Regions from separate parts of the Homo sapiens genome. Here region 2 is linked to region 1. The links come from fine-mapping of genetic effects on gene expression. A gene starts in region 1. The other region holds a variant in brackets. All regions are shown on one strand. Distances are from middle to middle. Region 1 holds the start of TLR2 (toll like receptor 2). Region 2 overlaps RNF175 (ring finger protein 175).

The links. PIP is the estimated chance that this variant, and not a neighbour inherited with it, causes the effect. A credible set is the group of variants that fine-mapping cannot tell apart.
Region 2: its variant is the best candidate, but not a certain one, in a credible set for the expression of TLR2 in whole blood (INTERVAL, PIP 0.73).

Annotation. Positions count from the first base shown.
Region 1 is chr4:153,676,186-153,692,964 of GRCh38, reverse strand. It overlaps TLR2 (toll like receptor 2), which reads right to left and starts at 8,685. Exons shown (of 3, transcript NM_001318789.2): 1 at 8,605-8,685; 2 at 4,918-5,063. It also overlaps the pseudogene LOC100419170. RefSeq lists silencers at 8,418-8,507, 8,788-8,967.
Region 2 is chr4:153,703,290-153,720,068 of GRCh38, reverse strand. It overlaps RNF175 (ring finger protein 175), which reads left to right. Exons shown (of 9, transcript NM_173662.4): 7 at 4,407-4,540; 8 at 7,493-7,594; 9 at 9,580-9,909. The coding sequence ends at 9,700. It overlaps TLR2 (toll like receptor 2), which reads right to left. Exons shown (of 3, transcript NM_001318789.2): 3 at 13,809-16,779. The coding sequence ends at 14,807. Among named protein-coding and RNA genes, the nearest start is that of TLR2, 27 kb to the right of the region's middle. RefSeq lists an enhancer at 14-183. The variant C/T (reference allele first, on the strand shown) is at 8,383.

The DNA.
Region 1 (16,779 bases):
TGGTGAAATAACTATTCAGGGAAAGAAATTTAAAAGTTTGGTAGATACAGGAGCGGACATTTCAATCATTTCTGTACAGCACTGGCCATCTGCATGGTCAATTCAACCTGCTCAATTTAACATAGTTGGAGTTGGTAAAGCCCTTAAAGTATATCAAAGTAGTTATATTTTGCATTGTGAAGGGCCCAATGGACAACCTGGGACTATACAAAAAATTATAACTTCTGTACCTATAAATTTATAGGGAAGAGATTTATTACAACAATGGGGATCACAAGTTCTAATTCCAGAATAATTATACAGCCCTCAAAGTCAACATATGATGCATGAAATGGGGTATGTCCCTGGTATGGGACTAGGAAAAAATTTGCAAGCTTTGAAGGAAATGCTTCAAGCGGAAAGACAAAGTTCCCACCAAGGTTTAGGATATCATTTTTGATGGTGGCCATTGTTAAGCCTCCAGAACCTATATACCTTTAAAATGGTTAACAGATAAGCCAATTTGGATAGCACAATGGCTGCTGAGTAAAGAGAAACTGGAGGCTTTAGAGGACTTAGTTGCTGAACAATTAGAAAAAGGACACATAGCTCAACATTTTCCCCTTGGAATTCTCCAGTTTTTGTAATTAAGAAAAAATCAGGTAAATGCAGAATGTTAACTGACTTAAGAGCCATTAATTCAGTTATACAACCTATGGGGACATTGCAGCCGGGACTGCCTTCTTCTGCTATGATTCCAAAAAATTGGCCTTTAATAGTCATAAATTTAAAAGACTGTTTCTTTACTATCCCCTTAGCTGAGCAAGGCTGTGAACTGTTTGCATTTACAATTCCTGCAGTAAAAAACCTGCAGCATACTAAAGCATTTGTATTGGAAAGTGTTGCTACAAGGCATGTGAAACAGTTCAAAAATTTGCCAGACTTATGAAGGGCAAGCAATTGAACCTACTCGTAAAAAATTTTCACAGTGTTACATTATTCATTATATGGATAATATACTTTGTGCTGCCCCCACTCAAGAAATATTACTCCAATGTTATGATCACTTGCAAAACTCGATTTCTCATGCCAGTTTAATTATATAGCTCCTGACAAAATTCAGACTACTACTCCTTACTCCTACTTGGGGACCTTAGTAAATGACACTACCATTGTGCCACAGAAAGTAACTATACGTAGGGATCAATTGAAAACATTAAATGACTTTCAAAAATTACTAGGGGACATTAATCGGATATGACCTGCTCTAGGCATTCCCACCTATGCCCTGAGTAATCTATTTTCTATCCTTAGAGGAGATCCTAGTCTCATTAGCCCTCAGCAATTAACAAAAGAAGCTGAGGCAGAGCTGCAGCTAATCAAAAAGCAAATCCATAAATCTCAAATAAATAGAATAGATCCAAAAAAGACCCTAGATTTGCTAATTTTTCCAACTCAGCATTCACTTACTGGTGTTATTGTATAAGAGCAAGACTTTGTACAGTGGCTTTTTCTTCCACATACTAATTCACAGACTCTAACTCCTTATTTGGATCAAATGGCTACGATGATAAGAAATGGGAGAATTCGGATTGTTAAATTACATGGATATGATCCTGGAAAAATTATTGTCCCTCTCACAAAGGCACAAATACAGCAAGCTTCTATAAATAGTCTTACTTGGCAAACCCATTTAGCTGACTTTGTGGGTATTCTTGATAATCATTTTCCTAAAATGAAATTATTTCAATTTTTGAAATTAACTAATTGGATTCTCCCCAAAATAACTAAATTTAAACCAACTGAAGGTGCTGAGAATGTTTTTACAGATGGGTCTTGTAATGGTAAAGCCTCTTATTCTGGATCAAAAGGTAAAGTTTTTCACACGCCCTATACTTCAGCTCAAAAAGTGGAGCTTTAGCTGTAATTGAGGTATTGACTGCTTTTGATATGCCTATTAATGTGATTTCTGATTCTTCCTATGTGGTTCATTCCATACAATTAATTGAAAATGCTCAGTTATGACTTCATACAGATGAACAACTGATGACTTTATTTACCCAATTGCAAACAGCATTTAGGAGTAGAATGCACCCTTTTTACATCACTCACATTAGGGCTCATACACCTCTTCCAGGACCTTTAACTGAAGGGAATCAAATGGCTGATCGCCTAGTTGCTACTGCAATATCTAATGCTAGACACTTTCACAATTTAACCCATGTTAATGCCTCTGGTCTCAAATGCAGATATAACAGTACCTGGAAAGAAGCTAAAGCTATTATCCAGTGATGCCCAACTTGCCAAATGGTGCATTCCTCATCTTTAACAGGAGGAGTTAATCCTCGAGGATTGGAACCTAATTATCTTTAGCAAATGGATGTCACACGTTCCCTCGTTTGGGAGACTAGCTTATGTACATGTATGTGTGGACACCTTTTCTCACTTTGTCTGGGCTACATGCCAATCAGGAGACTGCATGTGTTAAGCATCACCTTTTGCAGTGTTTTGTGGTGATAGGAATTCCAACTTCTGTTAAAACAGATAATGCCCCAGGCTATACTAGCCAAGCTCTAGCTACATTTTTCTCTATATGGAATATTAAACACATTACTGGCATCCCATATAATTCTCAAGGACAAACCATTGTAGAAAGAATGAATCTCTCCCTGAAACAGCAGTTGCAAAAGCAAAAAGGGGAAACAGGGATTACAGGACACCCCATATACAACTGAATCTAGCATTAATGACTTTAAATTTTTTGAGCCTGCCTAAAGGCCAGATGCTATCAGCAGCTGAAGAGCATCTACAGAAACCAGCTGCAAAAACAGAAGCAGAACAACTGGCTTGGTGCAGAGATCTGACAACAAAAAGTTGGGAAATAGGTAAAATAATAACTTGGGGTAGAGGTTATGCTTGTGTTTCTCCAGGCCAGAATCAATAGCTGATTTGGATACCATCAAGACACCTGAAACCTTATCATGAGCCAGATGCCAAGGAAGAGATTCTGGGAGGATCCCGAGGACCCTCTGGTTGCAGCCATGTCGAGACTGATGCTGAGGAGGACCCAAACTATCACGAGCAACAACCATCAAACACAGCCATCTACCTGGGGACAGATCAAGAAACTGCCATAGAGGGTGGAAGAAAACCTGAGGAAAGTGGGACAACCAGTCACAATGAGTAATTTAATGATAGCTATGATAGCAGTGATCACCATTGCCATTAGTATTCCTTCAACAAGGGCTAACACAGAGAACAATTATACTTATTGGGCATATTTATCAATCTTGGCTGGCAATAATGCCTGGATGTAATCATTCTATGACACAGTTACACATGCTTTCTGATCTCAGTATTTACCATAATAAATCTGTTTCTATAATTGAGGCATATTGCCCTCAAAAACCTATTTGTAAACAGAATTGGACCTGGCCAGAAATAATGAACATACTTGTTTGGGAAGATTGCATTGCAGAATAGGCAGAGGTGCTGCGCAGTGATTCCTATGGAATCATTATTGATTGGTCCCCTAAGGGGATGTTTAGCTTAAATTGCACCTCTCAGTCTGCGTGCCATGGCCACACTATGTTTAGCTGGTCTAAACAAAATGGTCAGATGGTAGAAATAGCAAGAAATATGGCAAGAGTTCCTATTATCTGGAAACATGATGGTATAGTGGCACCTCACCCTCAAATGATATGGCCCGCTGTAGGAGCTAAACATAAGGATTTGTGGAAACTATTAATGGCTCTTAAATAAGACCAAATTCAGGAAAGAATAAAAAAGCACCTAGAAGACACTCTACAAACTTGTCTTTCCATATTGCAATATTAAAAGAACAAATATTTAAAGCATTCCAGGCACACCAGACCTTAATGCCAGGAACTGGAGTGCTTGAAGGAGCTGCAGACAGATTAGCAGTGATTAACCCATTAAAATAGATAAAGACACTTGGAAGCTCTGTGATTTCAATGATGGTTGTGCTTTTAATCTGTGTTGTTTGTCTTTGTATAGTATGCATATGCGAATCCCGACTCCTGCAAGAAGTAGCTCACTGTGACAAAGCTGCCTTTGCTTTTATTGCTTTGCAAAACAAAAAAGGGGGACATGTGGGAACAGGCTCCCAAACCTGGCCATAAACTAGCCCCAGATTTGGCCATAAACAAAATCTCTGCAGCACTGTGACATGTTTGTGACAGCCATGACGCCCACGCTGAAGGTTGTGGGTTTACTGGAATGAGGGCAAGGAACACCTGGCCCACCCAGGGCAGAAAACCGCTTAACGTGTTCCTAAGCCACAACAATAGCATGAGCAATCTGTGCCTTAAGGACGTGTTCCTGCTGCAGACATCTAGCCAGAGCCTATCCCTTTGTTTCGGCCCATCCCTTTGTTTCCTGTAAGGAATACTTTTAGTTAATCTATAATCTATAGCGATAATGCTTATCACTGGCTTGCTGTCAGTAAATATGTGGGTAAATCTCTGTTAGGGGCTCTCAGCTCTGAAGGCTGTGAGTCCCCTGATTTCCCACTCCACACTCTACATTTCTGTGTGTGTGTCTTTGATTCCTCTAGCGCTGCTGGGTTAGGGTCTCCACGACCGAGCTGGTCTCAGCAGTCCATTGTAATTCTAAGTTACCTTTAGTAAGGCTCACACATTTCTCTAGAAAAGCACAGGTTCTTGGTCCATAATTCTTATAAATGAAATCGGCTGGAGTTGCAGATGGAGTTGTAGACTCCTTAAATCCAGATAAGCCCAGGATTCCCTGTCTTCTAGTAACCTTATCTACTTGAGGCCTCCTAGAGCACCAGTCCAGTTTCAGTTTCTTCACTGAATCCAATCCAATTCTGGAGCCAATCCATCAAAGAATTGCTCAAATAAAGTCAGAGAGCTGAAAATGCAAATGTATAGTGCTCAAGTCTGAGCAGGAACTTACCCACAACTACCAGTTGAAAGCAGTGAAAGAGCAATGGGCACAATGAGCCCCACAGGTACCTTCACTTGGTCACTAAGAGCTCCTGGGAGTCACTATAGGTCTCCTTTGGATCCTGCTTGCAACACCAAACACTGTTAAAAGAGAAACTTCAGACAAATTAAATTTGACAGAGTTTATTTTAGCAAAGAATGATTCATGAATCAGGCAGCACTCAGATTCACAAAAGTTTCAGAGAGCATCCAACAGTGTGAGCAGTGAGCTTTTATAGGCCAAACACAAGAGCATAGTAATCACCTGATTGGCTTCAGCTAGGAGTCTGCCTTATTTGGGTATGGTGTAATAGGCATTTACCTTGTTTGGGCATAGTCTGATCAGTTGGCTGCCTGTGATTGGCTAAAGCTTGGCTATTTATGATTTGGTGGAAATTTAGCTATTAATTACAAAAAAAAAGCTCCTAAGTTAGGTTTCAGTTTGTTTATGTAGTATACTAAATTAGGTTGCAGTTTATTATGTAAGAACTCAAAGTGTAGAGACAGTCTCAGGATAATGGCCTCCTGCTTATGTCATTTAACAAAAGAGAGGTCCTCAATTTTATTCCTTAGATGAGTTATTTGTACCAGCTTTTATTGTCTTGCCAGAGGTTCATCATTTTTATTAGCATTTTCAAAAAATCAACTTCTGACTTGATAGATCCCCTATTTTCTAGCACATTAATTTCTATTCTTATATTATTATTTCCCCTGTTCTGATTTCTCTGGATTTATTTTACTATTCCTTTTCCAGTTTTTAAGGTATTTGCTTGCTCATTCATTTTTCGTCACTCTTCATTTCTAATATATGCACTTAAGGTTGTAAGTTTCCTTTAAGCAACAGTTTAGGTGCATCTGACAAGTTTTTATATGTAATTTTTTTCATAAGTCATTAAAAATATTTTCTGATTTTCATTCTGATTATTTTTTGACCCATGGGTTATTTAGAAATTTACTAATTTCCAAATATATGAGAATTTTCTATAAGTTTTTCTGTTCTTTTCTACTTTAATTGCATTATGGTCAGAAGACATATTCTGTATGATTTAAATTCTTTAAAATGTATTGCAATTTACTCTATGAGCCAGTATATGGTCAGATTTTAAGTATGCTCTGTGATTTCAGCTGCTGTTGGAAGTAGTATAGGTTCCTTATGTGAACTACATTGTGTTCGCATTTTCTTTATCCTTATTGATTTTTGTCTGGTTTTTCTATCAGTTACTGAGAGATGTATGATAAAATCTCCCACTATGATTGTGGATTTTTCTATGAATTTTCTATTTTTCTAGTTCAGTCAATTTGGCTCTATTCTTTTTCTATTTTCTAGTTTCTTAATGTTGTTATAAGTACTTATAAATTCAAAATTTTTATTTCTTCTCAGTGAAACCTTTAACTTAGTGAAACGTTTATCTACAGTTATGATTTTTTTCCTAATTCTATTTTGTCTAATAGTAATATTGCCACAACAGCTTTCTTTTGATAAATGGTTGCATCTGTTCACTTTATACCTTTTAGTATCCATAAATGTGTCTCTTGTAAACAGCATATGATTGTTGGGTTGTTTTGAAGTCTAGTCTGATAATATTAGTCTGATTATCATAAAATTTAGTCTATCTCATTTAGTTACTGATGTATTAAATTGCATTTAATATAATTACTGACATTTTGGGCTTTAAAGTAATTGAACTATTGCTATGGTTTGAATGTGTGCCCCAAAGCTCATGTATTGGAAATTTCATCTTCAATGCAACAGTGTTGAGAGGTGGAATTTTTGTTTGTTTGTTTGTTTTGAGACAGAGTCTCGCTCTGTCACCCAGGCTGGAGTGCAGTGGCATGATCTCGGCTCACTGCGAGCTGAGAGGTGGAACCTTTTAAGAGGTGATTAGGTTATGAAGGCTGTACCCTCATAAATGGATTAATGTTATCACCAAGGGAGCAGTTTATTGTGAGAATGAGTTTGTTATAAAAGTAAGTTCTGTCCTCTCTTGCTCTCTCTCACCATGTGATGCTTTCCATCATGTTATAATGTAGCCAGATGACCCTCACCAGATGCAGCCCTTCAATCTTGGACTTCCCAGACTCCAGAACCATGAATGGATAAATTTCTGTTCTTTGTAAATTACCCAGTCTCAGGTATTTTGTTACAGCAGCACCCAAGGGACTGTGACAACTATGTACTTTATTCTTGTCCCATTTGTTTTATGTTCTATTGTCTCTCTTTTCTTGCCCTCTTTTAAATTTGGGGGTATTCCATTAGATTTTTTCTACTCTGTTAGTTTATCAATAAAACTGTACCCCAAAAAATTAACTGATAGCTTAGAAACCCCCAAAACATGCTGTCAACTTCTGGCAGTTTTTGTAAATGTAAAATGGGTACATTATAAAGAACTTAAAGATGTTCCTTGCTTAGAACAGGAAGAACCTTTAAAATATTGGTGAATAAATCATTTTCCAATAGTTTCTGCTCTTGCTTTTGTTGTTTGTTTGTTTTGTTTTGTGTTTTGTTGTTTGTTTGGTCTGTCCCTTCAAGTCAGGCCACCATAGCTACAGTTGCTCTTTGGTAAAAATCTTAATAACAGAGTCAAAAGATTAAAGTCATCTCAGCAAACTTTGAGTTGTCTACACCCAGATTACTCTCCTTCTCTTTCTCCGCCCCCACCCACCACTTCCAATCACCTCTTTCTCTCTCTTTCTCTCTCTTTCAAACAGGAAAAAGACTTTCCTGGCTTGCATTTAAGTTCTAAACACAAGTTCATATTTATAGAAGTTGAAGAAGTTGTAAAGGGCACTTCAAAGCATTCTTACTTGAAGGACTCGACTTTGCTTAAACGCTGTAAGTTGTTTTCTAATCAGAGACCTAACTCACACATCCTAAGAATGAAGGAACGCAGAGGTGGGGCGAAGCCTGCCAGGGAGCAGAGGTCAGACTTGGGTTAGGGAGCCAGGGTCCTGGACAGACCCAGAGCACGGAACCTTTCCCACCTCTGAGCCACGGTGACCAAAATCCAAGCTCCGTCCTAGCAGTAACCAGTGAGCGAGGACACACCCCCTGCCAGACGCTAGCTCGTTGAAAGCCTTTACCCAATCTTTGTCATCCGAGCCAAGAGGGGCCAGGAGGCGGGGAGAGCGACCCTACCGGGAATCAGGGAAGCGGGAGGGCCAGGCCGTGAGGGAAGCGGGAGGGCCGGGCCGGGGCCACCGCCCCCCTCGGCCTCCCGAGGGAGGTGGCGGCCAGAGGCCCGGAGCCCCAGCGGAAGCTCTCCGCGGCAACCCCCCCGGGGCCTGCAAGGTTGGAAGGGCGCTCAGCCCAGCCGCAGCCCATTGGCACTGCACGCGCGGGGTCCCGACCTCGGGCTCTGCAGGACCCTCGGGCTCCCTTTCCGTGTAGCCCCTGCTTCTCCCGAGGGCCGACCTGAGCCGGCTTCGCTGGTGTCCACATTCCCGCGCTGGGCCGTGCAAAGAAGCACCGGCGTCCCGGGGGCCTGGTGCGCTTCCCGCTATCCCCGCCCGGACAGGAGCTAGGGGCCCAGGTGCAGCCGAACGGGAGCCCGGGTTCCCCAGAGCCCGTGACCGGGCTGCGGCTCCCCTCCGCCCCTGCCCGACCCGACCCCAGGAAGGGGTGCAGAGAGACCACACGAGTGGGGAGCGCACGACGTACCTGGGAGAACTCCGAGCAGTCACCTGAGAGAACGCCGAGCAGCCGCCTGGCTGCGCTTTCTCGCTGCCTCCGAGCCGGCCTGCCCGGGACTAGGAAGTAAGCAAAAGGGAAAGTCCGCGCGGCCGGGCGCCCCCTCCTTCTGGGGTGCGGGAACCGCCCCTTCCACGGGGCACGTGCGCCGCTGCGCAGCCGGAGGGAACTCTGGACCTCGCGCTGAGTTCCAGGCAGGTGGCCCCGAGCGAGCCCCCGCGGCCGTGCTTCCCAGCAGGCTCCCGCCCTTGACCGTGAGCTAGGCTGCGACAGGCCAGAGGCGGGTCCTGCCCCGACAGCTGCCCCGTGCAAGGCTGGGTCGAAGAAGAGAGCTGGGGGCTTGGCGGAGGTTCCAGGTCAGAGAAAAGCGAATCGAGACGCTAGAGGCGGCCTGCGTGGGATTGGCAACCACAGGGAAAGCTAAGTGCCCAACCAGTATTTTCTTGAAGCTTCGGGCATCCAGGACCTCACATCACCTGAAACACACCGTCTTTAAATTCCACTCCTGATGCTTTTCCATCCATGGAAGCCCGAACTCAGGCTCATGAATCGTGCTTCTCCTTTCCCCACTTTTCCACACTCTATTCACCTGCCAGTACATCTCCAGGGTCCGCTTCCACCCAAAAGTCTATGCCCTCCTGCATTAAAATAGGTTCACCCTCCAGACTAACACAGAACGATTTTGCCTAAGGGAGCAGATAAGGACAGCCCCGGATTTTTTTCCCCAATCCAGTGACAGTCCCTACTGGTGCACCATCTCTAGCACCTACATTCCATCCCACTTCTCACCATGCAAAGATTTGGGCTTCCCACTTCTGTCTACAGTTTGAAGCTAAGCCCTTCCCTTGCCCCTATTCCATCCCTACTTCCCAAAGTAATACCAAAAACAGTCATTGATCAATTTTCTTCATTGCCACAGAACCTAGCTGTCTCCACGGTTAGGAATATGTATAAGGGAAGAAAACAAGCTTTTAAAATTCAACTGCCTTAATGTTAATAATCTACCTTTTATGTTCATAATTACATTTGATTTTCACAAAGTGAGATATGAAGCAGAGCAAGCATCCTTGTTCCTCCCTTACACAAGAAAATGTCATGTGAATTGTATAACATATGACAGAACTGAGATTTGAAACCAGAATTTTACCTTAAATCCAGGGCTGTTTCTCCTACCCTGTTCCACATCCCTAATCCTCTCTGATGGTTGGAACATCAGGGAAACTTAATCAATAGACCTAAATATGAAATTGAGAGGTTTTTGTATACAGGTCACTATCTTACTATTTTTCTTTATCCTGACCATCAGGTTGTCCAGCTGGCTGAAAATGCTTTCTTATTAATTCCAAATCTCCAGCTCTCTACCTTGTGATTTCTGACAAAAGAAAACTTCCTTCAAATTATTTCTCCTGAAACTAAAAACTTGTTTTTTCTCTATTTCTCTTCCCTAGTTGAACTGCCTAAGGTGGATTTTGATGCTATTGCTCTATAATCCCAAAGTCAATTAGAATTGTCTGGCAAAGTCAGATAGAAATCATTTATTTAGCCACAAATCAGTGTCCTCTGCATATATTGAAGGTAGTTGTACACTGTCCACAAAGCTATTAGCACGTCCAATTCAGACACAGTCCTTATACTTGTTCAGTTCTTGACATTTTCTTTTTTTTTTTTTTTTTTTCTGAGATGGAGTCTCGTTTTGTCACCCAGGCTGGAGTGCAGTGGTGCAATCTCATCTCACTGCAGTCTCCACCTCCCAGATTCAAGCAATTCTCTGCCTCAGCCTCCCAAGTAGGTGGGATTACAGGTGCGTGCCACCACGCCTGGCTAATTTTTGTATTTTTGGTAGAGACAGGGTTTTGCTATGTTGACCAGGCTGGTCTTGAACTCCTGGCACCAAGTGATCCACCAGCCTAGGCCTCCCAAAGTGCTGGGATTACAGGTGTGAGCCACAGCACCCGGCCTAGTTCTTGACATTTTTGAAGCACCTTCACATCTAGAATTTCATCTGAATCTTACAATAACACATGCAATAAATAATTCTGATATTACTATTCCTTTGGTTAAAGTGATTAGGGAACTTGCCCAGAGTCGCATGGCTCACAGTTAACATGTGGCAAATCCCAGGTTAGACTCCAAGTCTCCTTCTGTATCTAGATATAAGACCTCCTATAACTCTCTACCAAAAAAAAGAAAAATGTTGATTAAAGTTAGAAAATCAACACGGCATATGAAATGTACTAATATTTGGGGAAAGGGTAACTTTCATTGTATATATTCATAGTTTTGAGCATCTAACTGAAATCCTAAGCTGTTATCTGAAAGTTATCCGAAAACACAAGGCCAGCGTGGTGGTTCACACCTGTAATCCCGGCACTTTGGGAGCCCAAGACAGGAGGATCTTGAGTCCAGGAGTTTGAGACCAGCCTGGGCAAAACAGGGAGACCCCCATCTCTACAAAAATTCAAAAATTAGCCAGGCATGATGGTTTGTAGCTGTAACCCCAGCTACTCAGGAGGCTGAGGTTGGAGGATCGTTTGAGTCCAGTGTGTTGAGGCTGGGAGATAAGAGTGAGACTCTGTTTCGAAAAAACAAAACAAAACACACAGTCTATGTCTTTTTCACATAAAGTATATTGTAATTGTCAGATGAAATAATAAGAAACTCATCCACCGAAAACCACTTAATGAAAATATGCCATAAATCCTGCATTATTTTACAGATCTTTATACATGAACATACATTCTTCAAAATTTTTTTACTCTGCACAGATGTCCGTATGTCCGTAATTTTTTAAGACATTTCAAAAATATTGCCTATGCAAAATAATAGTAGTAAACTTCTAAGTTAACATAGAACCAAGTTCTGAAAACAGAATATTTCATGTTGTATATATTTCCCTTTTAAAAACTAGGAGTTTTTTTTTTTTTTTTTTTTTGTGGGCTCCTGCGGGCCAGGGGACTGAGGCAAGCACCTTGGAGCTGAGCCATAGAAATCAGATCAAAAAGTGTGTTGGAATGAGTAGATGGACAGAATGAATTATGGGGAAGAGGGAACTGCACTCTTCAAAGGTCCCAGCCAGAAGTGGGGCTGGGGGCTGGGGGCAGGGGAAGGGAGCAGGAGGCATGATGACTCCCAAGCTCATTTTTCTTTTTTTTGATATGTTTTATTTATTATTATTATACTTTAAGTTCTAGGGTACATGTGCACAACGTGCAGGTTAGTTACATATGTATACATGTGCCATGTTGGTGTGCTGCACCCATTAACTCGTCATTCACATTAGGTATTTCTCCTAATGCTACCCCTCCCCCAGCCCCCCACCCCACGTTAGGCCCTGGTGTGTGATGTTCCCCACCCTGTGTCCAGGTGGGAATTGTTCAATTCCCACCTATGAGTGAGAACATGCAGTGTTTGGTTTTTTGTCCTTGTGATAGTTTGCTCATAATGATGGTTTCCAGCTTCATCCATGTCCCTACAAAGGACATGAACTCATCCTTTTTTATGGCTGCATAGTATTCCATGGTGTATATGTGCCACATTTTCTTAATCCAGTCTATCATTGATGGACGTTTGGGTTGGTTCCAAGTCTTTGTTATTGTGAATAGTACCGCAATAAACATACGTGTGCATGTGTCTTTATAGTAGCATGATTTATAATCCTTTGGGTATATACCCAGTAATGGGATGGCTGGGTCAAATGGTATTTCTAGTTCTAGATCCTTGAGGAATCACCACTGTCTTCCACAATGGTCGAACTAAAAACTAGGAGTTTTCTTTAACTAAAACCCTTCCCGCTGAGCTTCATTAGTGGCCACTCCAGGCAGGTCTAGGTGTTAATTATCTTCTGCAGCTTAACAGAAATGCTGGGGAATGATCCTAGCCATAGACTGAAGGCCTGTGTCCTCCTGAAATTCATCTGTTGAAATCCTAACCCCCAATGTGAGGTACTGGAGGTGGGCCCTTTGATGAGTGATTAGGTCATGGGGGCAGAAGCTTCATGAATGGGATTAGTTCCCTTCCAAAAGAAACTTCAGAGAGTTCCCTCACCCCTTCCACCACCAAGAACACAGTGAGAAGACAGCTATCTTTGAGCCTGGAAGAGTTCCTCACCAGATACCAAATCTGCCAACACCTTGATCTTGGACTTCCCAGCCTCTAGATCTGTGAGAAATGAATTTCTCTTATCTATAAACTACCCAGTCTATTGGCATTTTTGCTATAGCAGCCCAGATTGACTAAGGCAAATGGCTTCTTAATGGGCTCCAGAAGAATGAGAATGGCAGCATCACTGTTCTCATCAAAAAGACGGAAATGGGAGAAGTCCAGTTCCTTCTTGCACCACTCACTCTTCACAAAGTTTTCAGAAAGCACAAAGACAGTTTTGTGTCTCTTTTCAATGGAGTCAATGATATTGTCAATGATCCACTTGCCAGGAATGAAGTCCCACTTATGAAGACACAACTTGAAGAGGGGATTGAAGTTCTCCAGCTCCTGGACCATAAGGTTCTCCACCCAGTAGGCATCCTGCTCACTATAAGAAACAAATGCGTCATAGCAGATGTCCCTGCTGCAAGCTTTCCTGTGCTTCCTTTTGGCCTAGAGCCAGGCCCACATCATTTTCATGTACCACGGGCTGTGGAAACAGTGGCACAGAACCCCCATGGGCAGGATCAGCAGGAACAGGGCACAGCACATGCCAGACACCAGTGCCACCCTGTGGCACTCCGACACCAAAAGGCAGACGTCCTGAACCTGTTGGCCACACACGTGGGATGGAGAGTCACACAGGTAGTTTGCTGGCCAACCGATAAGAACTTTGGCCAGTGCTTGCTGCTCCTGAGTGAAGGAGAGGAATTCACAGGAGCAAATGAAGTTGTTGCCACCAGCTTCCAAAGTCTTCAGTGTGTGAAAAGAGTCAAGTTGCCCTTTAGAGAAAGTTTTCTTTTCCTGCTTCTTCTCAAAGGGGAAGAAAGCATCTGGTAGGGTCTTCAACACATATCTGAAAATGTAAAGTTATTTAAATTGCAGCTAAATAAAAGTTTACAAGGCTCACTTCTAGTAAGCCTCGTGTCTGGGAAACAATTGGTTAAATTGTGAATTTTTGTGTTAGATAAGTTCAAGTATTCTTCCCTTTCTGACCATTGATAAGTGATATGTAAAGAACCAAGTATATGCTGACCAAGATCAAGGTTAGTCAGTTTTTCTAGAGTTAAGCAGCATTTTCCAGAACTTGCAGATTATTTAGCATGAAATTCAAGGTGTATAGGGAGCTTCAGGCTTCCTTATGGACTGAATACTTCAATTATTCTTCAAACATCAATTTTTCACTGAGATCTAAGAATCCTGATGATTTTGAATGTTGCAACAGAGGATATGCTATTAAGCAGATCTTGACACTTTCAACCTGAAGATCTTTAGTCAATACAAAAGTAGAAGCATGTCTTTAAAATTTTGTCATCATTGAAAATTCCTGTAGCTGAGCTCTGTTTTATTACAGTTTCTATTGGACGTGGTCTTTTCGTGGGATCTCAGCCATCTCATCTTCCATTTTCCTGAACTACATAGGCTTCCAGCTTTACCTCCAACAAGTGATTTGCAAATGCTCTCATTTGATTGCTTCAGCTTATCTTAATATTAGTTTTTTCACAATGAGCCTGACTATAAGGTCCTTTTTTCTTCCTTTTATCTCATATGAAGAACAGTGTTTCCCGCTTCCAAATACTTTTAGAAACTTGAAAGATCAAACAAAACGTCTCAGAGTAAAGTTGACTGCTTCATATGTCAGCTCAAGTGACTGATCTACATTTATTTCAGGCTTTTTAGTTCATATCTCTGGGGATTGGAAACATAAATTTTAAATTAGTTCAGAACAGAAAGTTGGTAAAATATCCTGTTGTTTTTAATTTAGAGAACTTATATATATTTCATGAATTTAAATTTGGGAAAATGGAAAAAGAGAGAAGGAAACATTTCCTCAAGTCTCTGTTGGACTATCCCAGAAGTAAAGAGTCAGACTGTGAGGATGATAGACAAGGTTAGTTGTTAAAGGATAGATCCAAATGCACAAGGCTCCCGAAGACAAGGCAAGTAGTTTTCACCTGTTGTAAGAATTCTGTCAGGCTATAGAAAAGGTGCTTCCAGATTCACACACATCTGCTAAGTATGACTGGATGTAAATCCCATGGGGCAGGGATTTTGTTTTCTTTTATGCACTGAACTATTCTCATCCCCAATAGCATGGCTGGCACTCAATGAATACTTGTTGAGTGGTGGATTGCCTTGCCTTTTCAGAATATGGGCTAGACCTGGAGGAATGGAGTATAAACATCTGAAGTGGCCATTGCAGAGACAAGACTTCAGGGGAAAGAAGCCTAGACCAGGCCCCTTGTCTTGACTGACATCTTGCCTCCACCACACAAGAGCTGACTTCATTTAAAGATGGGAATGAAGAAATATAGTGCACTATTTTCACCCACATAGTCAAGCAAAACCATGAGTGACTGATATCATTTTAATATATATAAGGGTTATATGGCCTTTCAGACCACTTCAGAGAAGAATATGAAAAGAAGGTAGAATTTTATCAAGTTCTAACTTATTTGGAGCACCTTGAAAAATGTACTAAAATATCTTAGCCTGGTTCACGCCTGTAATCCCAACACTTTGGGAAGCCAAGGCAGGTGGACCACCTGAGGTCAGGAGTTTGAAACCAGCCTGGCCAACATGGTGAAACCCCATCTCTACTGAAAATACAAAATTAGCTGGGTGTGGCAGTACCCGCCTGTATTCCCAGCTACTTGGGAGGCTGATACAGGATAATCACTTGAACCTAAGAGGCGGAGGCTGCAGTGAGCTGAGATCATGCCACTGCACTCCAGCCTGGGCAAGACAGAGTTGAGACTCCATCTCTCTCAATCTCTCTCTCTCTATATATATAATATAGATATATATCTATATATCTATATATATATCTTAGCCAAATAACTGCTGAGTCCAACTTTGTGGTATGCCAGTCTGTGTAGGGGTTGCCAACTTCCATGTAGTTGGAAAAACAATGAGTCATGATATGATTCAAAGTCAGGAATATAAGCTGTGTAACCACTGTTTTCTTTTCATTCAGTTTCTATTATTAAGTATAACTAGAGCTCAGTGTGTACTGGTCAGGGTCACAGACAAGACTACTGTCAGCTTCTCAGCCAATATTGCTGGCCAAGTATCTAAGAAGGAATTCCCCAAATTACATACAATGATGTAATCGTTTCCTATGGGTGTGTAAGAATCTTTCAAAGCCTGCAAGGTTTTTGTCCTATTGGGCACTTAGATGGACAGTCTTACTTACTCCAAAAAGTTTCTAGGTGCAACCTCTGGAAGATGTATAATTAGTATTTATATTAATATTTTGTGTTAAAGAATTGGTGGATACTTGATTTTTTAAGACTTGTCATGTTTAAAAGAATTTGGCCTATGAGAGTCGCTTATCATAGCGACTTAAAGTGTATACTTTGGAGAATTTCAGTTCCAAAATGGTGGCATACTGGCTTCATTTCCCTGTCCACAGAAAACTCAAAACAAATAGACAGTGCAGATATTATCACCAGCAATATCCCAGAACTCAAAGATGAGGATGAGTCAGTTCCTGGGGCCACAGACAAGTGAAAAAGCCTGGAATAGACTAAGAGAATCAGATTTCCACATCCACGATGCCCCTCCCCACAATCTGCCTGTCATGAAGCATGGGGAAAATTCCTCCCCACTCATAGTTTCTACCCTGGAAAAAGTGAGATAGAGGTCGACAAGCAGCTTCCCCATCACCTTCGGCTCCCTGGCAGGGGAACTGTACCTGCCTCAACCCACAGAAAGCATCACAAGTGCCTGAAGAAAGAAATATCCCTGCAAACAGCAAAAGTCAAGGTGAGAGGTGGGACTACCTTGCCCAGCCCTGGAAACTCTGCTCTGTAATTAAGCCAAAGGAGATGCCAAATCAGAGTGACTGTTTAGCAGCACTAGCTTTAGGAATTACCTTCCACAGGTCCCTTGGGCATGAACCTCTAGCCAGCCTTCCCAAATTGGCAAGATATCCCCACTGGGACTTCTTCCATTTGGGACTTGCAGCACTCTGATTCTTTGCTAGAGCTGAGGCAAACCTGT
Region 2 (16,779 bases), 27 kb before region 1:
TGTTTCCTTTGGAACTCTTTTGGTTCACCTAGACCAATTGCTCCCTGGATTCTCCTTTCATCAAAAAATTCTTTGTTAATTAATTGGAAAATACATGTCTTATGTATATAGAATACTTGTGCAATAAGGCATCTTTTAAAATAAAATACGCAAATTATTTATGTTATTGTATCTAGCATACTCCAATTGCCAACATTTAAGGATTAGTAAAACATTAACAATAACTAAAACCTTTCAGCTCTGTCTGAAACCCTGCCTAATGCAAATAAAAACTATAGTTGATGATGCATAAAACAGTTCAGAATCAACAGTGCATCTGGGTAATACTTATTATAAATACCAGTCACATTATATAGCATCTGAAGAAGTAGAAGATATAAAAAGTATGCTAGATGTATTCTGACTCTATACTGTTACCTAGAATTTTTTTAATCCCTAACAGTTGTTTTTCTTTTCTTTTTTTGAACTCTTTTAAGACTAAAATTCAGAATGGACATACTTTGGAGTTAGATGTATTCCTGATTCAGATATCAGGGGCATTTATCTATGTCTGACTCTTGCATATCTTAAAAACTTACAAACTAAAGGCTCTAGGGATGACTTAGTAGTTTCAAGAATTCCACATCTCTGTCCTCTACATGTGTCTCCTGGTACACAGCCAGATGTGAAGTAGAAAAATCAGTGTAAAGCAAAGACATGGAAACAACCCATCAATGATAGACTGGAAAAAGAAAGTGTGGTACGTATACACCATGGAATACTATGCAGCCATAATAAAGAATGAGATAATGTCCTTTGCAGGGACTTGGATGGAGCTGGAAGCCATTATCCTCAGCAAACTAACACAGGAACAGAAAACTGAAGACTGCCTATTCTCACTTGTACATGGGAGCTGAACAATGAGAACACATGGACACAGAGAGGGGAACAACACACACTGGGGCCTATCGGGAGCGGGAGGGAGAGCATCAGGAAAAATAGCTAATGCATGTGGGTCTTAGTACCTAGCTGATGGGTTGACAGGTGCAGCAAACCACCATGGTACATGTTTACCTATGCAACAAACCTGCATGTGTATCCTGGAATTTTAAATTAAATTTAATTTTTTTAAAAAAAGAAAAAAACAGTGTAAGTAGCAAGAAAAGGGTGAACTTCTGGACTGCTCCCTCCATTTCTGGAGCAGGACCTAAGTGGCTATGACCTTGACTTCCTCCCCACAGCAATTGTCCATCCCCTCCACCATAGGCTCTATCTTACTCTTTTCCTAAAGCCTGCAGCCCAAATTCTGTGGTGAAATGCTGGTACAATACAACTGCCTTTCTTATAAGGTTTAATGTGAGCACAGGAAGGAGTATTTTTATTCCCAGTTTCTCCAAGAAAAAACAGAAGTTATACCCCTTGGAAAATTCCCAAAACCTCTTGTGTTTATGGACAGAAAAGGAAGATTAGAATTATATGTGGCTGTTCTCAAGTGGACCAAGAAGAAGAGACTTTACCTGGCAAGACAACCAAGTCTTTAAGCACCAGCTTTTGGGAAACTTCTCACCTGATCCAACCCGACCAGTTCTTAACATTTTGTCATCCTGTCTGTTTATTCCAGCGACCAAATCTATAAAAACCACTGCCTCAAGCCATTGGTACAGCCACCAGTGATTTGGATTAATAAGGGGTGTGTGTGTGTGTGTCCACAGACACTTGTGCATGTGCTTGTGACTGAGGTAAGGACATACAGTCTCCATTCCCGTATCAGTGCCTAAGCCCCACACCAAAGCAAGTAAATCAGAATCTCTGGGAGTAGATCCAGTGCATCTGCTTCAAAAAAAAAAAAAACAAACAAACAAACAAACAAACAAAAAAAACTCCTTAGGAAAGGAATGAGCTATTAAGCCATCCAAAACCATGGGGTGAATCTTAAATGCATGTTGCTGAGTGTGAGAAGCCAGTCTGAAAAGACTCCATCCTGTATGACTGCATTTATCTGACATTTTAGAAAAGGCGCAACTATAGAGTTGCTAAACAGATCCATGGTTGCCAAGGCTTTAGGGAAGGAGCGTGGTTGAATAGGTGAAGCACAGGAAATGTAGAGTGGTGAAACTCTTCTGTGTGATACGATAACGGTGGATATATAACACTATACATTTCTCAAAATCCATAGAAAGTGTGAACCTTAAATTTATGCAAATTTTAAAAATAATTTAGGAAGTCAGAGAATCCAAGGGTAGAATTCAGATCATGCCAAAAGAATCTAACCATATTACAAATGTATGAAATAATGTCATTGAAAGGGGTGGGAAAAAAGGTGCTGACCTAAGTAACTTTGAAATGAATGGAGATCATAAGACTAAAAACAAAAGAAACTGTGTCATAAGCACTGTACTCTAGTTGATAAAGTTATTGCTGTCAAGTCTATGGGTTAACAATTTTGATACCACCATACATGTATTCTGTAATTGTAATTGTTTAGCTTAATATAGATATACATGGATAGATATAGAAATATTTACAGATATGTATGTGTGTGTGTGTGTGTGTGTTTGTGTGTGTATCTGTGTGTGTGTGTTAGTATATACAGATGAATTCCTTGTTCTGTCAGCTAAGAGGTCCTAGGGGCAATGACACCCCAGCAACAATGAACATACATAGTGTCCAGATCTTGTTTTCTAATATCATTCTACAATAAAAGGAACTGGCACTCCTTGAAGAAATGGCTCATTATAGGTCTGGGCAAAGAATACACAATATAAGCCTGGAGCATCTCGTAGTGACCAAAAGCAAGAAAATGCTAAAAACAAAACAAAAGAACTCCACAGTGATTGGGGATATGTCAAAGAGACACAGGAGCCAACTGAAAGAGCTCCCAATGGCCAAAGCTGGAATTTGAGCAACAAAATAGTAATAGTAGTAGTATTGGGTTATAACCCAAAGCATAAATATCCATGAGTCCACATTGATATCAAATAAATGATTGAATAAATAAATAAGTGGAAGAGAATAGTCAAATCTGTGCAAAAGAATTCCACATAATTTATATAAATTCTCCTCCCTTAACGAGGTTGTGATGATTACATTTTAGAGTCAGTTTGCCTAGGCTATGATACCCACTTGTTTGGCAAAATCACTAGTCTACATGTTGATGCAAAGGTATTTTGCAGATATGATTAATATCTATAATCAATTGACTTTACCTGAAGGAGATTATCCTTAATATTCTACATAGACCTCAGCCAATCAGTCGAAGGCCTTAAAAGCAAAAACTGAGGCTTCCTAGAGAAAAAGGAGTTCTACCTCAAGACTGCAACATCAATCTTGCCAGAGTTTCCAGCCTGCTGGCCTGCCAACCTGCTCTGCAAATTTCTGACTTGCCCACAAATGTGTGGGCCAATTCCTTTAAATCAATCTAATAATAATATAGGGAAACTAGATATGTGGTATATAGCCAATCTCTGTAATATTTTTGTATCTTTTCTTTAAATCTAAAACTATTATAAAATAATTTTCTTTGGAAAAAAAAAAGCTTCCTAGGGATTCTAATATGCTGCCAATGTTGAGAACCACTCCTTATCCACAGTACGGGAAGATGCAGATATCCCAAAGTAAAGTTCTAAATGCATTGCCTTCTAATGGTGATTGCTCAGCATGCACCCAATAAAAACATGGGGATTTAAATGACGGAGAGATGCCTCGGTTTACTCCAGAGATCTGAATCAGAATCTCCAGGACAATAAAGGGAAGGGCCAATCTATGGATTAAACTCAAAGGCTTCCTCTGAAGCTTCCTCTTAACTCCAGCCCTGGATAAAAACGATTCCTGTGAAAGGATTCCTCAATGTGGAGGTTAGATGAGAAGTTATAATTGGCAATGTGCTTTGGGTCCCTTTGGAATTCAATGAGTTTTTGCCTGGAAACCTTAACCCCTCTGTAGCATTCTTCTTACAGGAAACGGTGTCTCACATTCTAAACTATCTTAGAAGCAGTGGAGATTCTTTTTTTTTTTTTTTTTTTTTTTGAGACAGAGTCTTGCTCTGTCACCCAGGCTAGAGTGCAGTGGCGCAATCTCAGCTCACTGCAACCTCCACCTCCCGGGTTCAACCGATTCTCCTGCCTCAGCCTCCCGAGTAGCTGGGATTACAGGCACCCACCACCGCACCTGGCTAATTTTTTTGTATTTTTAGTAGAGACAGGGTTTCACCCCGTTGGCCACGCTGGTCTCGAACTCCTGACCTTGTGATCCACCTGCCTCAGCCTCCCAAAGTGCTGGGATTACAGGCATGAGCCACCATGCCCGGCCGCAGTGGAGATTCTATGTGCCAAGGGCTGCCTGTCCCAGTGCCTGGCAGTGGCTTCCTGCATTCAGAGAGTGGCATGTGCTCTCCTTTCTGACTGTGCTCTGTCCATTTCCTCTGATAGTTCTACAGTGTCAGCCGGTTGCCTACAAGGAGCTTATCGGACAATATCTGTGCAGTCTGTGGGCAGAAGATCATTGTGGAGCTTGATGAAGAAGGGCTCATTGAAAACACCTACCAGCTTTCCTGTAATCATGTGTATCCTTTTCAAAGGAAATTGTTTGGGCTTCATCAAGCCTCCTTCTTTCCTCCTTCTCCTCCTCCTCCTCCTGTCCCCATCTCCTCCATCTTGCTTACCTTCCATGCCCAAACCCCAGTCCTTTATCCTCCAGCCCAGTCGAGTCTTCCTGTTTGTCCCTGCTGAATAATGAACTGCTAATTAAGGTGAACCTCCTCCTCCAGTAATTTCCTTTCTAAAGAGGACTGTTAATGCCACATAGACAGGAAGGCAGTATCTGAGCAGGGTGCTGGCAGGGGAAATTGGTTGAAGTCATAAGTGAGCAGATAGCCAACAAAGATCAGGGAAAGAAGGGGTTTGGAGGTGAGAAAAAGAGTGAAGTATCAGGTGCAGGGGGGAACTTAAGACTATCCAAGTGGAGCCCAAGGTCTGAATCTTAGCAGATCAAGAAATACAAAGAGTGCTTTGCCTAGAAATAATCCTAGGAACCTACCTGTGGCAACAGTAGTCTTGGGGGCAGCCAAGGGAGGAAACCAAGCCTTCTTCTCAGCTTCAGTCTTTAGAAGAAGATACAGCCACAGGCAGCAAGACACCTTGGATTACAAAAGCAGGGACCAAAATTTGGACATTTGTTCTTGGACCATGGGCTCCTCCACCAATGGGTTCTATCCCAAATAGCTATCCATTGGCTGAGGGATCTTCATATGATAGGTACCAGACAGCCTGAGCCTGGAAACCAGCATTCTATGTGAACTCCAGTAACCATTAAGGAAAGCCTCAATGTGCTGAAAAATGCTGGCATCGAGACCCCTGAACAAATCAACCTGTGTTGCCTGAACATGTATGGACACTACTTTTGCTATGGATACCAAAGTTAGGCTTAGGTTGGCCAATCATCAGTATTTTAATTCTTCCTAAATACAAAAAAGGGTATCATTTATCTTTATTTTATAGTACAGTATCAATTTAATAATGTCATCGCTATGTACCCAGTTAGTTCAAAGCTCTGGCATTATGAGATGGTTAAACCATCTGTCTTTTGCCTAAAGCCCACTTAATTTAGTCAGTCATACCTCGGTGTCCAGTACCTATGATTCAATTCTGTTTAATCTGGACAGTTTCCACTTATTCAATCCTGAAAGTAAAACCAGGACCAAATGCATCTCAAAAGTAATAGGAGCCTTTACTCCAATACATAAGCCTTAAAATCTTAAGGGAAGAAACACAAAGATACCCCATATGGATTTCTGTAGTGGTTTTTTCAGTGTGATACCTTTCCCAAAAAACTCATTCTTTGTAGCAATTTTCCAAGTCTGGCCCTAGTTTTAAATATGATTTATTTTTCAAATGTTGGAACAGAGCCCCTTCTGCCATTTGCAAATGGAAATGTTTTCTCTCTCCACCTTTAAAAGCCCTTAGGGATTGTTGTACATGTGTGCATATATAATCTAAAATGTAGTCACCTTTAAATTTGCTTTTCAGGGAGTATTATTAATGGCCCATTTTAGCATGAGTCATATTAGTGAGAAATGGGCAAATATGAGTCATATTAACAAGGATGGGTTATCTGAGTCTTGCTCTGCAGAAGTTCTGCCAGTGTGCAAGTTTTTCAGCATTGAGATTTTGAAAATGAAAAAGAACATTAGAGAGAATGTGGACATTTCTGTGCTGACTCAATGGCCCCTGAATTCTATACCTCTGTAGAAGATGGGGCTGTATTCCAGCCCTTTTGAATGAAAGGCTGTTTGAGTTTTGGTTCAAAATCTTCGTTATAATACACCACTTTATTTTAAAGCATATTGCAAAAATGACCCCAATTCCAAGAACATAAAATAATGGAAACTCCTGGTTACATTGAAATTTAATACTGAGGAGTTATATACATGGCCTTGACTTGCTACACCTCCAAGCTCCTCCATTTGTTAGGGAGGGAACTTCTACATCGTTGCTGTTCACCTGGGTGTGTAGCAGGCCAGTCAGAAGATCATGTGATCTTGGCCCAGAAAGTCACATTGGGAGCAGCGATTGTAGAAATAAACAAATCAGTAGGATGGATTTCATTATAGTTCATTTTGCCCAAATCCATAGTATCAGGGAACATGGAAATATATATTCCCAAAAATAATCAGTTTTGAAAGAGTCATTCAAATGTTCATTCAATAAATATTTCTTAGGCATGGCTTAAGGTGCTGAGGACACTGAAATGAATGAGACATAGTCCTACAGGTAACACATGGTCTAGGAGAAACATGTAAGTACCAAAAGTCCTGCTACACTAGAGTAAGTCCCTGGTGCTGTGAGAACACATAGGGTTCACTCAAGTTTGGGGACAAAGGGTCAGACTTTCTGGACCAGGAGACGTATACAAATGGATCTGTAAATGCCTAGAGTTTGAGAAGTTAAGTTTAGTAGGTATATATTCTATTAAAAATAATTGGCTCCTTATCAGTACTTTTAAAAGTCAAGAAAAAAAATTATGAAGTTAATGGAAATATTTGTAACTTTATGACCACAAATAATTTTAACTTGTCTAAGTGCCTAAGACAAGTCTGATTACATGAAGCTAAAGAATAATGCACAAAAAGTAGAACAGAGAAATGCTACGGTAAATGCCTGAGAAACGCACAATAACAAGGTGGGGAAATATAACAATACACTTATGGAAGACATCACTGTAAAGGAAAAAAAAAAAAAAGGACTCATATTCTTTATCTAATCTAATTCTTACCAGAATCAAGTGAGGCAAGAAGGCCAAGAAGCTAAGTAAATTCCTCAGGGTCATAAAGCGAAGGCAGCTGTGACTCCAGGCTCACTGTCATTGTCAGGTCCCTTACAGAACCTCCCGAAAAAAGCGATGTGCCTCATCAAGTCATGACTCCACCACTAGACCCTGAAGATGGGACCATTCCATGCCATCATGAACCAGACATTGCCTTTTCATATCTAGAAGCCTCCCTAACAAGATGCTTCAGCTTTCATGAATTCTGCATCCGAGGTTGGTGTATCGTTGGGAAAAAGCAGACTTGCCCTTACTGCAAAGAGAAAGTTGATTTGAAGAGGATGATCAGTAATCCATATCCTTTAAAACAAAAAGGTTATAAGAGATTATCTTGAATGTTTCTGGGGATATATTCTTCAATGAAAAGTTTCAGTGTTTTTGTATAGTTCCAGCAGAAAATTTTTTGTTTTCCCTAACCACCTATTTCAAAATGACTTATGGTCTCTTTTCTCCTCTGTGCCTATATTACTATTCTGGTTAGAAAGTTAAATGCCAGAAAACATTCCACTCTTTATGTTCTATATTTTCCACATTAAGGGCTGTAGTGGAAATGTGATGAGACACTGCAAAAAATAGGTAAAATATATGGAAGAATATTCAGGATGGATGGATGGATGAATAAATGAGTGAACTGGATGGGTGGGTAGATAGGTGCATAAATAGAAAAATTGGAATTGAAATTTTAAAAGCCGAAATGTGAACTAGAGTACAGAAAACTATTTTTAAAATATGTTAGGGTGTACCAAATTTTATTATTCCCAGAAATGAGTAGGTATTTCCCCGTCTGGATTTTGGCTTTTTAAATTCCATGCCATGCATCATCTCTTCTTAGGCCAAACACTAGTGATAACAATATTGAAAATAAATAAAGATTTACAGAGTTGATCAGCTTCTGGCAGCCACTGAGATTTGTATAGACATCAGAGGTGTGCAACAGAATAAATTCAAGTCACATTAAGGTCGCAGGAAGGTAATGGCCCCCATCAGGAGCTAACTAGAAAGACTTTGTCTTCAACCTCACTATCTCAAGACCATAGTATATCTCATTCAGGAAGCAGGGTGGGAATGGAATTAAAACATATC[C/T]TCCCTTAAGCAGAAGAGTCCTGAAAGGTTGGCATCAACCTGCCAAGTACCATCTCTTCTCTAAGAGACAGCCTTTCTGTACTTTCTAAGTAATAGCTAAATTTTACAATGCTAAAGGAATCACCTTCCTTGCTTCCTGCTCCCCTGTTCCTCACCAACCCTATACGTATGGTTTAACAATGGCTACTGGCAGCAATGCCCTCATCTCTGGGCACTGCAGATCAGGGAGGGATTCAAGGAGGGCATCAGAGAAGGAGGCAACATCAGTGGATCTTTGGGTCTCAAGGCCCATACCATTGCAAGAGACCACCCTCTGCAGTGCCCACTCCATCCACAGACCTGGCCTTTCTCGGTGAGTCAGTGCCACTCAAGCCCAACTCAAGGCTAAAAGTGTGTGATGATCCTTCCACCTTCCTGTTCATCCACTGTCCTGGAATTCCTCTTCTAAAATGAGGATACCAAGTCCAGAACAGTTTTTGGTTATTAACCTATAAAACCTCAATGCATAAATCTTTGTTATAAAATTGGTGATAATATGATCATAAATGTCACCTCAAGTGATACTTTAACAAAGGGTCATTCATTTCTTTATGTAGTCTTGAGAAAATAAACTGTTGAATAAAACATATACTACTCTTTTATTGAGACTCAATATAAGAAAAAACTACATGTGAAAAAGCTGTCATTTTGTTTGTAAAATTGTTGTCGGAGACACTATGCATTCATTAAGCTCCCTAGCACAGTTTATCAAAGACAGCAGAAAAAGGTCTCTCTTATCTGATGAACCAGTGTTATTCTTTGTAATATACAATGGGTTCATTCTAATGTATGACTACAGGAAAGCCCAGAGCTGTTTTTGCTCATTTAGAGCAGTTTCCACTATCCTTGGTTTTCCAATATAGTCATTCCCCTCTTCTTCCTTCTTTTAGCATATACCCTTGCCTTTGATTCTTGTTTTCTAGTTTGGGATTTTATTGTAAAGAACTTCAATTTATTTTCAGGAATTGGGTGTGGTGTAAGTAACAATGACAACCATAATGCTATAAAACTCACATAAGGGGCTTTTAATTGAGCACATAGAATTAACAAGAAAGGAAATACCCATTCATTACATTGTTTATTATATTTGCAAATGACATTTATGAATATTTCTGCTACTTGGCTGTATATAGAACAACCTCCTTAACTGAGATTTAGCTGGGAGCGCACACATTTTCTGTATGGACAAATCCTGGATTGGCTTCGTTATTTGGTGGCCTGGCAACCTGTGGTGATAGGAATAGTTCAAGGCATTATCTATTCACTAGGGCTGGAATAGGACAGCAGACCCCAGAAGCAACATACTGCATGGTTGAAATCCTTGGTCCAACATTTAATATTAATTTTTTTAATTTTAGAGATGATCCCAAGTGTTTAGAAAACTAAGTAAACTTTGTTGTCAAGCAATTTGTCCATGTGGAAAGAATTTAAAGAGAAGCTGAACAATGGAATAAACAAATAAAGCATGTTTTTTCATCTTTCCCATTACAGCTGTTTCTTAACTCATGCACATGTCACATTTGTTACACTGCACTGTGGACATTCTACTTCCAGTTTGACTGATAACAATATCTGTAAAGTGTTTCAGAGGTTTGCAAAGTACTTCTCACACACAACATTTAGCCATAGCTAATACTTTCTCATCAGTTCAACATCTTTAAAGTAGGTGGAGTCGTTAAGTAATCTATGGTCAAGGACATTGTGCTTGTCTTCTGCTCCATGTGCTTGTTACCATGTGGCAGCTTCTGCACCACAGAGCTCTTCTGTAGAAAGTGGGTTACTCCCAAAGCCTCTGGCAGCAGGTGCCACACCTTCTCAATGGGCCACAGGTACTTTGGGTTTCCTGGAGCTGCCAAAAGTGCTCAAACCCATGCAACAGCTGTACTAAAGCAAGAAGAATCACTTTTCTTTTGTTCCACTCTGCGTGCGCGTGCACACATACACGTGCACAGTCATTCCATTGTGGCACTCTGCTTTTATTTTCTTCATAGTACTTCTCAATACCCGAAATCCTATCATAAATTTATTGTCTTCTCCTCCATGAAGACAAGGAATTTTATGTTTTGTTCCCTACCATATCCCCTGCACTTTGAGCACTGCCTAGCACATAAGAGGCACTCAAAAAATATTTGCTGAAAGAGTAAATTAATCTGGCAGAAGGGAACAAAATTAACTGAATAGAGAAGACCAGTCAGAAAGAATTAACCCATGAATGATATGTTGGACTCTCAAAATTAATTTGTTTTGAATTACTGGTCATTTTTAAAATAGTCAACACTGTATACATTTAACACCAGACATCTACTCTGCAATACTTGAAGCCATTACAATTGTATGAAGTAGAAAGGAAATACAATGATTATTTTCCTTGTTCAGATATTGGCACTATACTTAATGCTATTCAAAGGTCCATCATTAAGATAACTCACACTACAATTTCTTACTGTTGAGAACTTTCCTCTTTCAAACTGCCCAATGCTTCAGTATTATTGAAATAGGTCAGGGTCCATTGTCTCATTGTCTAAGGTGTTATTTGAACTTATTGTGTCATGACTGAGAAAATTAAGGAGCATGAATGCAAAGGGTGAGGTTGGAGCAAAAGTTTAGTAAGTGAAAGAAGAAAGCTCTCCACAGTGGAGAGGAGAGCCCAAGTGGGGTGCCATTTTACAGCTGAATGCAAAAGCTTTTATAAGAAACTCCTCTCATCTCTGTAGCTGTTTGAGTAACTTCTCTTATTTGAAAACCTGTCTGCACAACTCCACCTACCTATACAGCTGTGAGATGTCTCTAGGTAAGCACAAAGCATAGTTTTTTCTTGTTTGAGTAATTGTGGGTTTCTTTTAGGTAAACCCCCTCTGTTTCCAGTGCAATCTCCCATGGATCCCCCCGTGTTCATATCTGAAAAGGGGAGAAAACATTTTCCTGGGAGCCTGCTAATCACACAAAGAACAAAAGGCTTCTGTGCTGGACCTTGCCTGCTTATCTGTGCAGGTACAGTCTGAGTTTTCCCCAGGCTGCTCTATTTTTGCCTGTAGCTGTGATTTTCCAGGCAGACTGCTTCTCTGAAGACTAGCCTTAGCTGTCTACCGAACTGATTTTTCATTTTCTCCTCTCTCATTATGATTGATTCAGCATCCAGATTATAGAATTTTTAATTGCTTATTTCTCTACTCTGAAAACATCCCAATAATTCAATACTTACTATATAGTAGGCATGTTCAAGGGGTAGGGAGATAAAACAAGATTCTTGAGCTTATAGTCTATTGACAAATAAAAGACTTCACATTTGGATAAAGCACTAACAAAAAATTAGTTTTTCTCCTGTTAAACAAAAAAAAGAACCCTTAAACTGATCTCTAATTTAGTTCCCACTTATCTTTTATGTATAGCCACAATGGCAGCTTTCAGAACCATTTAGAACTCTCGGCAAATAAGCCAGTATTTATCTGAATGGGATTCACAATGACCCTCAGAGTTCAGGAATGTCAGATAATCACTAAACAGCCTCAGAAAAAAATGAAGATGCCATTTTCTTTATAAAATTTAAGTATTTACAATCTAATCCCAATTTTGTAAAGTAGTGTGTATATGTACACTGAAAAAAGATTGGAGAGTATTATGGCTAATACTAGGTGTCAACTTGATTGGATTGAAAGATGCCTGGATAGCTGGTAAAGTATAGTTTCTGGTGTGTATGTGAGGGTGTTGCCAGAGGAGATTAACATTTGAGTCAGTGGACTAGGAAAGGAAGATCCACCTTTAATGTGAATAGGCACCACAACACCTCAGGTGATCCTCCCACCTCAGCCTCCCAAAGTGCTGGGATTACAGGCATAAGCCACCACGTCCGTCCTAAAGATTATTTTTTAAATATTATTTTAAATCTATCAATTATCTATGAAGCTATTTCAGTTGCTATTTTAAGTTCTTGAAATTAAACATAGATCGAGTCAATGTTAAATCTACCTTGTTCTCATAATTAACATGGAAACAGAGAAGTAAAGCAGAAAGTCCATTACTGTATTTGGTGTCTGTGGAATCTCAAGTTTCCTTCCTCTAAACTTGTTTTTCGTTTGTTTTGTTTCATTTTGTTTTTTTGAGACAGTGTCTTCCTCTGTCACCCAGGCTGGAGTGCAGTGGTGCAATCACAGCTCACTGCAGCCTGGACCTCCCGGGCTCAGGTGATCCTCCCACCTCAGCATCCCGAGTAGCTAGGACCAGAGGCACATGCCACCATGCCCTGCTAATATTTTGTATTTTTTGGTAGAGACAGGGTTTTGCCATGTTTCCCAGGCTGGTCTCCAACTCCTGGACTCAAGCAATCCTCCTGCCTTAGCCTCCCAAAGTGCTGGGATTACACCAAGCCTGATTTTTTTTAAGGCTGGCTACCGTTTCCTCCATAACACTCTTCTGGGAGGTCGTGTGAAACAGCAGCAGCCCTATGCGAGTTCCCCAAGGACAAGCTTGTTCTGCAGTTAATGAGCATATATTTCTTTGTGGTATTTTTCTGCAAACAGCAGGATCCCTTATATCCCTGCTAGTATCCATAACAGAAAAATATCCACTTACAAGCCATAATATATAAGGGAATGAAATATCTTCTTGGAAAATAATAATAATAGCTAACATCTACTACAGACATCACCCTCACCCCACACACGAACCCATAGTGCCCATTCTCTTAGGCGTGGTACTCTTGCCCTCAACACCCCTCCAGAGAAAATGGGAATCAAGGAGCTTAGGCTCATGGTTTACTTACATTCCTACATTTCATACTCTCAGTATCTTAGGATATAGAGATCATCATCCCTATTTTAAAGACAGAAAAACTTTTTGGGTCATGTCAACTGACTTGCCAAAGATTACACATCTACTAACCCAGGTCTTTCTGACTCTAGTGCCCAATTAACCACATACACCCAGTTCTGGTTGAGAATTGAGCAGGGGTCAAAGGCTCACTTCCTTTCACATGGTTCCCAGCTTAAGAAAGTTACATAGAATCAGCAAATAGTGCTTACCAAAGAAAGTTGCATCAAAATTTAATGTGTGGTATTATTATACCTAGATTGCAAAATTAACATATGGTAGTAGTATCTACCTTTAAATTACTGTGTATCAAACTATTTTTGAGTCATTATGAGGAAACTCTAGGTATATATTTGCTTAAAAATCTATTTAGCTCACATGTACTTTTTAAAATATTCAGAAGGGGAAAAAGGGCAGGCTTTTTTAGAATTAAAAACAAGACTTTTCGAAGAAGGAAAAAGCAACAAGATGCAGGAGATATAGGCTAAAAAACAGGAACTGAGAGTCAGAGTGATTGGACAATAACTAGAACTCAAAAGGTAGTTAGAGGCTGAGGAAGACCAGAGTCCGGATGTGGGAAGTGTCTTTCAAATTCTCCTAAACTGAGTATTTATTTTGTTAAATTACAGAAATACATAATTTACTGTACCTTGCACTGTGTACTCACTCTCTCAAGTAACTATGGCTGGAGAAACCTATCTAATAGCCAGAAAGACAGATCCAGATCACATGAAAATACACCCTCTAGTATTTCTCATCCTGTAAAGTTTAATAGGAAATACACAGCACTTTTTTCTAGGAATAGCAACAAGTTTTGGGGAGTGCCCCAAATACTTTGCCTTGTTGCTCTTGAGATCAGCTGCACAGAGAAGTGACAGCTAGGTAGGACAGAGAATGCCTTTTGTGGCCACAGAGGAGTCTCTTAGCAGGAAGAAAGAATGACACAGTCATTGAGAATCTTAAGTTCATTTGTGCTGTTTCCTAATGAACTAAGCCAGTTGCTACAGATTACAGTTGGCCCTCTATATCCATGGGTTCTGCATCCATGAAGTCAACCAACTGTGGATCAAAAGTATGTTTTAAAAATTTTGAAAATAAAAAATAACAATAATAATATAAATAAAAAGACAGTACAACTATTTACATAGTATTTACATTGTATTGGGTATCATAAGTAATCTAGAGATGATTTAAAGTATACAGGAGAATGTACACAGGTTATATGCAAATACTATGCCACTCTTATAAGGGACTTGATCATCTATGAATTTTGATATCCACGAGGATCCTGCAACCAATTCCCTTGGATACCAAGGGACTATATTCAGATATCAGTAATAGACTTATGATCATGGTTATCTCATAGAAAAAAGAAAAACCAAAAACCAATTTTTAAATCTGGCATATGTTTATAAAACAGCACCCCAGACAAAATTTGAAGTTTTGTAGTTTTAGTAAGCAAGTCCTCAAATGACGGTACATCCACGTAGTTTTTATATAATTATGTCTGAATGAACTTAACTATAACTAGTGACATAAAGATCCCAACTAGACAAAGACTGGTCTTAAATATGGGAACCTAGGACTTTATCGCAGCTCTCAGATTTACCCAAAATCCTTCCCGCTGAGCCTCGTCCATGGGCCACTCCAGGTAGGTCTTGGTGTTCATTATCTTCCGCAGCTTGCAGAAGCGCTGGGGAATGGCTTTTTTCTCAATGGGCTCCAGAAGAATGAGAATGGCAGCATCATTGTTCTCATCAAAAAGACGGAAATGGGAGAAGTCCAGTTCATACTTGCACCACTCACTCTTCACAAAGTTTTCAGAAAGCACAAAGACAGTTTTGTGGCTCTTTTCAATGGAGTCAATGATATTGTCAATGATCCACTTGCCAGGAATGAAGTCCCGCTTATGAAGACACAACTTGAAGGGGGGATTGAAGTTCTCCAGCTCCTGGACCATAAGGTTCTCCACCCAGTAGGCATCCCGCTCACTGTAAGAAACAAATGCATCATAGCAGATGTTCCTGCTGGGAGCTTTCCTGGGCTTCCTTTTGGCCTGGAGCCAGGCCCACATCATTTTCATATACCACAGGCCATGGAAACGGTGGCACAGGACCCCCGTGAGCAGGATCAGCAGGAACAGAGCACAGCACATGCCAGACACCAGTGCTGTCCTGTGACATTCCGACACCGAGAGGCGGACATCCTGAACCTGCTGGCCACGCACATGGGATGGAGAGTCACACAGGTAATTTGCTGGCCAATCAATCAAGACTTTGGCCAGTGCTTGCTGCTCCTGAGTGAAGGAGAGGAATTCACAGGAGCAAATGAAGTTATTGCCACCAGCTTCCAAAGTCTTCAGTGTGTGAAATGAGTCAAGTTGCTCCTTAGAAAACGTAGTTATTGCATTCCTACTGATTTTCAATACTAGTAACATGGGTAAGAGGGAGGCATCTGGTAGAGTCATCAACTTATTTCTGGAAATATAAAGTTCTTTGAGTTGCGGCAAATTCAAAGAAAATAAATTGAGATTGTTGTTGCTAACATCTAAAATTTCCAGTGTCTTGGGAATGCAGCCTGTTACACTGTGTATTCGTGTGCTGGATAAGTTCAAATATTTCATCTTTTCTGGCCACTGACAAGTTTCAGGCATAGAATGAAAACTATTCTTACTGATATCAATGTTAGTCAAGTTTTTCAGAGTGAGCAAAGTCTCTCCGGTTTTTTCCAATGATGCCAAATGATTTTGCCTTAAAATTAAAGTTTGTAGAGAGGGCCAGGCATCCTCACAGGCTGAATTTTTCAAGTATTCTTCAACCATCAAATTTTCACTGAGATCCAAGTATTCTAATGATTTTAAATGTTGTGAAAGTAAACAAGGAACCAGAAAAACTTTACTGTTTTCTACTGTGATTCTTTTAACTCTTTCTGTAAGTGAATATAAAGTGCTCAGATCATAAAATAAGTAAAACCTTGGAATATGCAGCCTCCGGATTGTTAACGTTTCCACTTTACCTGGATCTATAACTCTGTCATTATCAGATGCTCTAAAATTACCAACTCCATTAAGGGTACAGTCATCAAACTCTAATTCTAACAATCCAGAAATCTGATTCAAAAGTTTCATAACCTGAAACAAACTTTCATCGGTGATTTTCACATTTCTAAATGTAAACTTTTTAATCAATGAATTTGTTTCACCAGTGGATAGTTCTGAAAAATGGAAAGTGTCCAAATCAGTATCTCGCAGTTCCAAACATTCCACGGAACTTGTAACATCTACAAAAATCTCCAGCAGTAAAATATGCTGCTTCATATGAAGGATCAGATGACTTACATTCTGAATTGACTTCAAACTTTTTGGCTCATAGCTCTGTAGATCTGAAGCATCAATCTCAAGTTCCTCAAGGAAGGTAAGTCCAGCAAAATCTTTTCTTTGAATCTTAGTGAAGGTGTCCATATTTCCCACTCTCAGGATTTGCAATTTTGTGAGATGAGAAAAAAGAGATGTTTCCCCTAGGGTTTTGTAAGGATTTCCCAGTAAGTTTAAGA